Regions from separate parts of the Homo sapiens genome. Here region 2 is linked to region 1. The links come from fine-mapping of genetic effects on gene expression. A gene starts in region 1. The other region holds a variant in brackets. All regions are shown on one strand. Distances are between the middles of the regions.

Region 1 (5,470 bases):
ACTGGTAGCCAGTCCCTCTCCCTCCCTCCCCACCCTGCCCACCAGCCATTCACTGGTGGGTCACATGGCAAAGTGAGGTCTGCCTCTCCAATCCTCACACCCATCATATACCCTCAAGTGTCCAAGAACCTTGTCCTCCAGGAGAGCAGGAGAACTTCAACAACCCTGGGGGCATGACACATTAATGATAGGATTTCAGCATCCTGCAGCTGGCTAGGTGCTGTGTGTGTATGTATGTGTTGAGGAGTGAGGGCTGAGGATTCATGACACCCCAAACCCACAGGTTTGCTCTTCACATCTAGGGCTCCTAGGACACCATGCCAGCACAAGTAACTTCCCAGGAAAAAGACACAATTCCACTGTCCTGCCAGGGAACTGAGACCCGAGACGGGGTACACAGGGTCATAAGGAGAGACAAAGACCCCTGATTTCTGAGCTAACAGCAGCCGTCAGGGGTGTGGATAGCTGAGGAGATGGCTGAGGATGATTCAAACACTCCCGCCATTGGGAGATCGAGTACAAACCCAAGAAAGGCTAGGACAGAGGCATCTCCACAGCTCCCAAATCTAAGGAAAGGCCTGTGTCCAGCCTCACTGATTATATCGGGAAGGAGGTAGAAATTGCAGGGAGTACAGTAGCTCCCCAAGTTCCCCTCATGGCAAGGGGATGCTGCCCATCCACCTCTGTGCCCCCAGTGCACAGCACAGGGCCTGGCACACAGAAAGAGATTAATAAATGTGCATGGAAGAAAGGAGGGAGGGGCTCCATGGTGGCGAGGTTCCCTTTAATGAAGGGAAGGAGGAGAGGGAGGAAAGGGAAAAAGAGCAAGTGCAGGGGATGGAATGCTGGAAGGGAGGAAGAAAGAAGAGAAAGAAGAGAGAGTGGAAAGAAAGTGTAAGTACGCCCTGAAGAAAGGGCCAGGGCACTCATCCCTTCCCGGCTTTCCCCCACTCCCCTCAAGCCCACCCCATGGCAGCATCCCAACGTTCCCTCTCTGTAGGGAGGGAAGCCCTGGTGGGTCCTCAGGGAGCTCCTGCGCGCCTGCTGTTCAGCCAAAGCCTAGCGCGGGACCTCCTTCAGGTAGCCGCACATTCTGCTCAGGGCTCTGGGACCCGCTGCCCTCTCCGCCTCTCCACTGAACTCCGCCTCTCCTTCTGTCACACGGCTCCGCCAGCCACTCTATCCTGCCGCCGCGACCACATCTCCAGCCTCGATTGTGCAGGCTCGAGCCCGTAGAAAGAGGGCTAGCAGCCACCTGCGCTTGGTCCACAAGAAGACGCGCTCCCAGGGCGCAGAGCTGGTGACCCCGCTCCCCATGCCAGGGACGAATAAACGAGAAAAGGGGCTGACCCGGTGTCACCCAGCGGCCGAGCAGCCGCCCCTTGGAAGCTCAGCACCAAAGGCAGGCGGCCAGGGTCCTGGCCCCTCTCTGGACCCCAGTATCCCCAGCTGTAAAATAGGGAATGCAGGAGGAGGACGACGTCTGTGGATCGTTTTAGGTCAGCTGCGGAGTCGGCCTGCGGGCTGGGAGCAGACCTCGCTCCCCACGCGAGGGCGCTGGCACTTCAGCCCAGCCTCCCTGGGGAGGTGCCCTGGACGAGACCCGCGAGGGTGCGGACACCTCATCCTCCCTGGAGCAGGTCTCCCGAGGCTTGAAGGGCCAGGGCACCCAACAGGTGCTGAGCGCGCCCCACCAGGTCACCCGGGAGCAGGGAACACCAAGGAACCCAGAGTCGGGCCTCTTTCGAGCCCTCGCTTCCTCTCGCCTGGCTTCTTCGGCGCGAAGGATGAATTGGGGTTGTTGAAAATTGATCAAACAACCCGATCTCTGTCAGCGCCTGGACACTTGCTGGGCCCCAGCTCGCAGCCTGGGAAGATAAGTGGCACTTCCTGTCTCGTAATCGGATTTGCGCGCACGAACCCTCGGAGACGCACAGGTGGGAAATGGGGAGGCTGGCGGGGAGGCCTCCTGGAGGAGGTGGCTCCGAGGGTAGACATGAGGAGCGCCCTGGGATGGGGCTGAGGGTGGATACAGAGGTGGGAGCTTGCGAAGGTCGTGAGCTAAGCATGGAAGGATGGAATGTGTTCGGGTCTCGAGATTCCCGGGTGATGAGCCCGGAGGGGCGAAGGCCTATAAATGTCTCACGACGGAAGACCAAGGTGTGGGATTGGCAAAGAGAGAGCAGAGCTTCCTCACTGGCAGGGGCTCCCCAGCCCCGCCCCATACCTGCGCGGCGGCCCCGCCTCCACCCATCCATTGGCTAGATCCGCCGCCCGTCAGACGAGCCCCCGGGGCCCGCCCCCAGCCCTGAGCTGCGCCTCTTAGCTCTGGGGCCACAGCGCCAGCGCCACTCTGCCAGGCTCCCGGCCATCGCCCGCCTGGTGCGCCGCCCGCCAGCTCTTTGCCCGCGCGGGGCCGCCCGCCGCGGGCTCAGGGCAGACCATGCGCCCGCCAAGTCCGCTGCCCGCCCGCTGGCTATGCGTGCTGGCAGGCGCCCTCGCCTGGGCCCTTGGGCCGGCGGTGAGTGTTCGCCCGGCCGCCCAGAGTCCCGGCAGCCTGGGGGTTGCGGAGGGCGGGGGAGGTGGGGGATGGCGGGAGCCGGGCCGTCTGTGCGCGTGTCTGTGTAAGAGGAATAGGGGACATCAAGCATCTCGACTCGCCTCCTCCCACCGCTCCAGACCGAACCTAGACGCGAGGGCTGGGATATTGGTCGTGCCCAGTCCCTCCCAGCGCAGCCCGGAGCAGGCACAGCATCAGTGGAGGGGCAGCGGGGAAGAGTGGGCCCCAGACTTGCCTTCCTTGTCGTGGTTGTGGGTGCGCAGCGGGGTGGGGCGGCCAGTGGGTGCAGAGTCAGGTACTGCGGCCGATTGAGATGGAAGGTTTGGTACACCGTAGGTGAGAGGGAGGATGTGAGGGGCCGTTCTTGTGTGCTGTGACCGTCTGGAGGTGCCTGTGGGCTGTCAGCATCAGAACCAGTGCTGGGGGCCCCAGGACTTGAGAAGGGGTTCTTGGGATCAGGTGAGTGACAGGCACATCCCTCCGTGTGCCCTCCCACTGAGCAAAGCAAAAAGGTACCAGACCCCAAGGTGGAAGCTGGTGGGCAGTGAGGGGCTAAGGGTGGTGGTTAACAGGAGGGGCCAGGCCTGTACATGGAGAGAGCTGAGCAGGGAGCCAATGCCAACAAGCAGTGGCCTCCCTCTTCCTCCCACTTCTGCTTCCTCTCAACGTGGGTATGTGTATGCCCTTGATACATGTGTACTCGTGTGCCCCATGTGTGGGTGTGATATGTGTTCCTGTGGATGGCTTACCTGGGCTGGGAGGCAGATGCTGATTGAGGCAGGAGATGCATGGATCATCTCACTCTAGAACAGGGGAGACCTCAGCACTCATTGAGTCTACTGAAGCCCATTTTACAGATGGGCAAAGCGAGGTCCAGAGACACAAGAGCCACATCTGTCTCCCACCAGTTAGACCTAGACAAAGGTTGATTTTCTCCCTACCCCAGACTTTGAGTAATCTAGAGTTGCTGCTTAGGCAGGGCCTTAAATGCCCACTCCAAGTTGGCTGGGGGAGGGTGAGGAATCTTGATTATCTAGTTCATTCTCTCCCATGGTCACTTCCCTTACCATCACCTCCACCAGAGCAGGTATCTCTGTGTTTCCATCTAGCGGATGTCTTGAGCACCCTGGGAATGGGAAGCTCATTGCCTGTCCTAGGAGCGGACCTCTGACAATTGGCAGGAGCCTCACCTCCACCCATGACAGCCATGAGACCCACCTCCTGAGCACTCAAAATCTTACCAAGCTCTGTCCCAGAGGCCACAGCTCTGGCACAACTTGCATGAAGCCTTCAGGCCTCTCCAACCACCATCTGGCCCTCCCAACCCCAGGTTCAAGCCACTCAAACTCTTCTTGGATGAACCGGGGATCTTGGGACCACTGTTGTCACCCCATTCCTCCATCCCGAGAAGCTTCTGAGCCCAGGGGCAGAGTGGATTCAGAGAGGTCTCCTTTCACACCAGGCCACTTCTACTTCACACTTCCTGAGACAGCCCAAATCTGTCTCCTCCCTCCAATGCCTACCCTCCCCCTGTCTTTCCACATCTTATTCGTTTAGTGCCCAACTCTATCTCCTCCTCCAGACAGCCTTCCCTGATTGCTCCAGCCAACTCAACCCTTCCCCCTCTAACCCCACCCTTCAGCCCTACCCACCTCCCAGGCTGGGCTATTCTGGCCATCCTATAAGGTCAGGGGCTGGGGTCTCTTACATCCCCATGTTTCTTACAGCCCAGTGCAGGGGCTGGGTCCACAGAGAGAGGAGAAGGGACTCAACCAGGACTGGGTGAGGGCAGGCTGGAGTGAGGGGTCCCTATTTCCCTCCCTGATTCTCCCTCCTCCCCACCAGCTACCAATCGCTCCCTCATGGAATGGGGCAAACCTGCTCTAGCCGGACTCGGTGTGACGGCGGGGTGGGGGGGCGGGGTGACAGGAGTTATCAGAGTCATAAAATGGCAGCTGCAAAGTTCAAGTTGAAGGCCCAAGGCCTTATCACTCCTGTTTATGGTGCCCTGACTTCAGCCTGGGAAGGAGAAATCTCTGAAAAGGGAGGCAAAAAAAAAAAAAAAAAAAAAAAAGGAAAGAAAACCTCCAGTGTCTCAGAGGAGGAAGTCTGCCCCAAGGCCACCTGTCAAGCCTTCCACTGCCCCTGCCCCCCGGACAGCAGGCACAGGGACTCCTCATCCAGAAGCAGAGCTGCTCAGGGCAATGCCCAGTACGAGGCTGGGGGAGGAGGGTCACAGGCCTCCTCGTGGGAAATTCTCTATCTGGTGTGGGAGACCAGACCCAGTGACTTAGGAGAAAGAGTCCAGGTGGATGTGGGGTACAGCCTCCTAGAACTGGGGCAGGGGTTGCTGAGAGGAACAGTCAGGGGAGGCTCCTGGAAGAAGCAGGACTGTGCCCTAAAGAGTTTGACCAGATGGGCCAATCTTTCACCCTAAACCATAAAACAGCCTCTGTTGACAGGACCAATGGGCCTGCCCCCAGAAGGAGGAGTCCCAGGGACTGGGAGAGGCTCGACTTCTCCCCAACTCTGAGGTTGATCAGTGGCCACAAGCTCCTGAAGGCCTTGCCTTGCCACCGGCATCCTGCTGCCCCTGCCACCTGCCTCTAGCCTCTCCAGAGGCGGACCACAGCTGCCCAGGCCCTCTTGGCCCCCAGCAGGCCACCCTGTGAGCTTTGGGAAACATGGCTGCATCTGGGTCAGGCCTCCTCCTCAAGTGAGGTTACCACCTCAGTTAGGCCTGGCCAGGGCTCCCAGGGTACCATGCTGGAAAAGCGAGCCCTTTTGGAAGTTTCTACCCTCCTGTCCTGGTGCACTAAGACTATGCCTTCTCTGAGGTTTGTGGGACATCCTTGGGGAGCCCAGGCTGGAAACAGGAGAGCTGGTCCTCACTCCACTCCATGGCAATGG
Region 2 (5,218 bases), 24 kb after region 1:
TGCGGTGGAAATAGACCCAGCCCACGGCTGCTCTTTCCTGGCTGTCCCATCCCCACCCCTAGCTGTCCCTCAGTTCTTCATCCATGAAGTAGGGTGACAAGACCTCTTTCCAAGGGTTGCCAGGAGGATTTACAGAAATGGTGAATATGGAATCACCTGGTATATTCCGGGCATACGGCAAAGTTTGGAAATAAACACACGTGCCCAGTGACACTTCCTGAGCTCATAGAACAGCTTGACCCTCCTGCAGCTCTTTATCTGGTCACCGAAATAAGTCCTCAGGTCACCTCCATGCAGGTGAGAACCAAGCTTACCTGGGAAGACTCTGGAGACCAAATCAGCTCTATCCTGTCCTCTCTATGTAGCCTTGGGCAAGTAACCAACCTCTTGGGGCCTCCACTTCTTAACTGTGAAATGGAGTTAACTTCCTCACTGGATGATTGAGGAAATTAAACAGGATGTGCCTAAAGTGCTTGACCAGCACTGACATTTGAAAAGTACTCAAAACCTGTCATTGTGATGAGGCTGACAACAGTGATGCTGCTGATGCTGCTCATGGTGACTATGGCGGTGGTGGTGGTGGTGATGAACGGGTACTGAGATGGGGAAGCGTGATTCTTCTCTGGCTCATCTAATTTCTATTCAACCCATCCTCTCCCTCTCTGGGGAGAGGACACCTCCCCAGTGCTGGAGAGTGGGGAGCCTCAGTGGTACCCCTCACCTCACATACCCCCTAAGCGGTCCTGTCTCTTTGCTGCAGCTTCAAGCCTCTGAGGACAGTGGACAGTGCAGCTTGCCTGGAGCCTCAGCCTCTGCTTGTTTCAGCCCCAAGCTCCTGCCATGCTGTGCTGCCTGATTCCCCCTCACATGCCTTTGCCTGCACAGGTTCCCCAACCCCACCCCTCCTCACCCCCACACTCCTGCTCCCCCTCCAGCAGCACATCTAAGCCCTTCCAGGTGTGAGAAGAAACCCAGCCCCACAGGCCCAGGCAGGCTGACTGAGGAGGACCGGGCAGGCCTGGGCCCCTTCCCCCAGCCGTGGCCTTGTGACAAGGGTCAGCATTCTGCTCACGGCAAGGGTCAGGAATCATTCTGTGACAAGGATCCAGGCAGGGTCTGTGACAAGGATAAGAGTGTATGTTGTACTTGGGGTCAGGTTCAGACCATAACAAAAGGGCTGAGCCCAAGAATGTCTGCTCTGATTCTATCATCGGTGCGGGAGCCCTGAAGAGGCTTCTCCCTGCCCCAGGTGCCCCCACGGTGCCCTGGGTAACTGGGTCAGGGCAGCTGGAACCTGACAGCACCAGGGTTGGTGGGAGTAGGGCTGAATTCTCTGCCTTGTTCCAAGCAGAGACAGCCAGGTCCCCATGCTCCCGGCCTCAGCCTTTGTCCTTGCCCCTGCCCTCCACCCAGGCCGCAATGTAAGCCGCAGCTGCACCGACGAAGGCTGGACGCACCTGGAGCCTGGCCCGTACCCCATTGCCTGTGGTTTGGATGACAAGGCAGCGAGTTTGGATGAGGTGGGTCTCAGGGCACCCCCACCTCACCTGCAGAGCGCCGGGGCCCACCTAGGAGACTTTGATCTCTCCCACCGAGGGGTGTGGTTGCTGTCTGTGTGGGAACAGGACTCCTGGAGTCTGCCCTCCTCTAGCCTCCTCCAGGCCTGCCTTTCTGGGGTCCCAACCCTTGGCTCCCCCTGACAGGGTATGGGAGGAGGCTTTCCCACAGGAGGGGCCCCCAGAGCAGCAAAAGCTGAAGCAGCTCCCCCAGGCTGGGCCACCCTACTGCCTCATGGGAACCTCACTTCAGCCCGGGAGTTGGCAGGGCAGGCAGACACCAGCACCCCATCCCATCCAGAGGGGAAACCGAGTTGCTGCAGGTCCTGGAAGGAACCAGACTTGGCTACCAAATAGCCAGTCAGGAACAGGGACAGAGCCTGTCATTCTCAGTCCCAGGACAGATATCTTCCCCGGAGCAGTTAAAACATGGTCTCTGTAAAGACTGGGGAGCCTGGTAAGGACATTGATGGGGAGGCTGGAGTCCTCAGCTAGGAGCCCCTCACTGCTTTGGGGTGCAAATGCATGTGTGTGTGTCTGTCTGCGATGGCATCTGCCCCACCCTCAGGCGCCCTTCTCAGACCGGGCTTTCACTCCACCCACCCCCGAGGACAGCAATTTCTTCAGAGGCCTTTGAAGCCCACTGGAGCTATAGGCCCTCATTCCCCCTTAACCACTTGCCTCTCCTCAGGCAAGCGTGGGAGGCTGACAGGAAGGAGTGGCTTGCCTAGTGGCTGTCGTGCTGCACTGCACCTGTGTCCATGGGGAGGGCATCAGGAGAGGGGACCAAGCGAGACACCCTCGGGGCCTAGCTTTGCCCTCCTCCACCGGAAAGGCCAGACTGCCCTCATCCCACCGACCCCAACTCCCAAGGGCCCAAAATGGGACATACTAGTGCCAGTGTCTTCTTCGACATCC[C/T]GCAACCTCGCATACCTCTCCTCCCTATACAGAGACAGGGCCTCGAGGGGTGTCTGAAGGGCAAGCAGACCCCACCCCTAGGGTGCCCAGCTCAGAGCTGGCACAGAAGGGAAGCCGGGCACATGGCTGGAGACATGAAATTAACAAAAGGGACGTGCAAGGTCTTCATTCTCTCCCTCACCAACTTGTCCCTCGTAAAGAAGCAAAGACAGGAAGTACATTCAACCCCCACCCCACCCTAAGACACAGTCCTGCCCTGTCTGTAGAAACCAGGGCGTTAGGGGTCAGGGGCTCAGCTGCTCTTGGGAGCCCCAGACCTCAGCCTCCTCATTTGCTGAGGCAGGGTTGGGCAGGCAGAGTGTGTAGGGCACCCCACCCCTGCCAATACCCCCTAGATGAGCCTCCCACCCCACCACCCAAGAGCCTCTCCCTGTCCCTCCAACAGCAGCAGACCATGTTCTACGGTTCTGTGAAGACCGGCTACACCATTGGCTACGGCCTGTCCCTCGCCACCCTTCTGGTCGCCACAGCTATCCTGAGCCTGTTCAGGTGAGGCCCAGCCCAAGTCACAGGCCTCAAAGCAAACCTGGCAAGTGTCCCTCCCACAGTGGAGCCCAGCGTGGCCCAGGCGTGCCCCGACCCCTCCACTGTTGCCCCCCAGCAGCACATACTCCCCAGCTCCTGCCAGGCCAGCTTCCCCTGGAGAAGGCAGGTGGCTGAGCTCTTCCATGTGTTGCAGCCTAGTCTCCCCTAGGATGGCCCTGCACCTGGGGACAGGGCACCAGAGAGTGGGGCCTGCACACAGGAATGAGGCTTCTGGGGCCACACACGAGGTTGAGGCCCTTGGGAGCCCAGTTGCACAGGTGGATGGGGTACCTGGGGGTGGGGCTCGTATTTCAGGATGGGATCCCCTTTGAGGCGGGGCCTGCCCTCTGGAGGACACATGCTCCCCTGCCCCACCCTTGCTCAGCACATAGGACAGCATTGGCTGGGGTGGGGATCCAAGGCCCCTTTGGCCTCCCAGATCTGCCCACCCCACACAGGAAGCTCCACTGCACGCGGAACTACATCCACATGCACCTCTTCATATCCTTCATCCTGAGGGCTGCCGCTGTCTTCATCAAAGACTTGGCCCTCTTCGACAGCGGGGAGTCGGACCAGTGCTCCGAGGGCTCGGTGAGGATCCTGGCCCTGGCCCACCTCCCTCAGTCTCGCCGTTATCTTTAACCACTGTAATCTCCTCTTCTCCCCCTGCTTCTCCCTCTCCCTCCTCCCTCTTCCCTCCCACCCCACCCCTCAATCCAAGGATAGCCTAACCCCCACCCAACCCCACCTGGCAGTACTCAAATCACACTCCCCTCCGGCAACAGGAGATGTTGCTCACCCATCTGGGTGCTCACAGACCTGCCGCCGCCAGTGAGAAAAGCAGATGGGAAATGGGACACTTCATGGCCACAGCCCAGAGCACCTGTCCCACCTGTTGCTAACTTCCTATGTGGCCTTGGGGAACTTACAGCCTCAGTTTCCCCATCTGTGCAAGGAATTCCAAGATTCCTTCCAACTCTGCCATCTGCCACCTGCATAGCCAGGGCTCTGCTCACCATGCCACTTTTCCTACTCCCCCCGTCCCCGTGCCATCTGGAGTGGGTCCATACATATGCAGTCCTCCTCTTTTGTTCTGATCCTGACAGCAGGCTGGTTCTGGGCCTTCCTAGGGAAGAGAGGTAAAGGGATCATCTAAGGAATTCATTGCCAGTCACTAAGGGGGCCATCTCCAAGGGATTCTTAGGGACCCTCTCTGAGTGCCCCAAGCTTTGACAGAGAGCTTGAGATCAGCCCCAGCCCCCACTCATTCCTTGTGGTCAGTAACTCATTGCTTCATGCATGACCCCAGAGGCAGTGCATTATATCAGGGGTCAGCAGTACCTTCTCCCCAAAGAGTGAAATGATCATACTGGAATCTCAGGCATTTCAACAAGGGGGAGAGAAAACCTAGGGGACCCACTTTGGCCATTCCCAGAGCTTCTCAGAGGTTCTGTCCCAGGAGCTGTGAGGCCAAGTCAGACATGAGCATTGTGAGCCACAGGACCTGTGGAGGAACCTGCTGCCTCCTGTGCACATGTTACGGATAATTATGGAGACTGGCTTCCCAATTCATTACTGCGAAGCTTTTCTAAGACTAGGAAGAAGCACAGATAACTGTCCTGGTAAAGAGCTGAGTTATGGCCAGACGCGGATTATGGCTCACGCCTGTAATCCCAGCACTTCTGGAGGCTGAGTTGGGCGGATCATGAGGTCAGGAGTTCAAGACCAGCCTGACCAACATGGTGAAACCCAGTCTCTACTAAAAATACAAAAATAAAAAAAATTAGCTGAGTGTGGTGGTCAGCACCTGTAATCCCAGCTACTCAGAAGGCTGAGGCAGAATAATCGTTTGAACCAAGGAGGCAGAGGTTGCAATGAGCCGAGATCATGCCATTGCACTCCAGCCTAGGTGACAGAGCAAGACTCCATCTCAAAAAAAAAAAAAAAAAAAAGAGTTATTCTCCAAAAGCAAATGGGAGGAAGATGGGGAGGCAAGAACTCCTGTAACTGGAGGGACTGAAGCGAGACCTGAGGAAGGACTTTCCAACCAAAGGGAGTGGTGGGGGCAGGGGGAGGCTTCTCTCTGAGGATGTCGCAAACCAAGGGTACAGGAAGGAAGGGTGGGAACCAATGTTTTGGGTACAGGGGGAAGTGGAAGC

The links.
Region 2: its variant is fine-mapped to the expression of VIPR1 in whole blood (TOPMed, PIP above 0.99). The same link has a PIP of 0.9 or more in CD4 T cells, T cells and blood mononuclear cells.

What each region holds. Positions count from the first base shown.
Region 1 is chr3:42,500,293-42,505,762 of GRCh38, forward strand. It overlaps VIPR1 (vasoactive intestinal peptide receptor 1), which reads left to right and starts at 2,351. Exons shown (of 13, transcript NM_004624.4): 1 at 2,351-2,521. The coding sequence starts at 2,444. RefSeq lists an enhancer at 849-1,422 and silencers at 1,950-2,049, 2,110-2,609.
Region 2 is chr3:42,524,474-42,529,691 of GRCh38, forward strand. It overlaps VIPR1 (vasoactive intestinal peptide receptor 1), which reads left to right. Exons shown (of 13, transcript NM_004624.4): 4 at 1,414-1,520; 5 at 2,920-3,023; 6 at 3,518-3,650. Among named protein-coding and RNA genes, the nearest start is that of VIPR1-AS1, 5.5 kb to the right of the region's middle. RefSeq lists a silencer at 171-341. The variant C/T (reference allele first, on the strand shown) is at 2,475.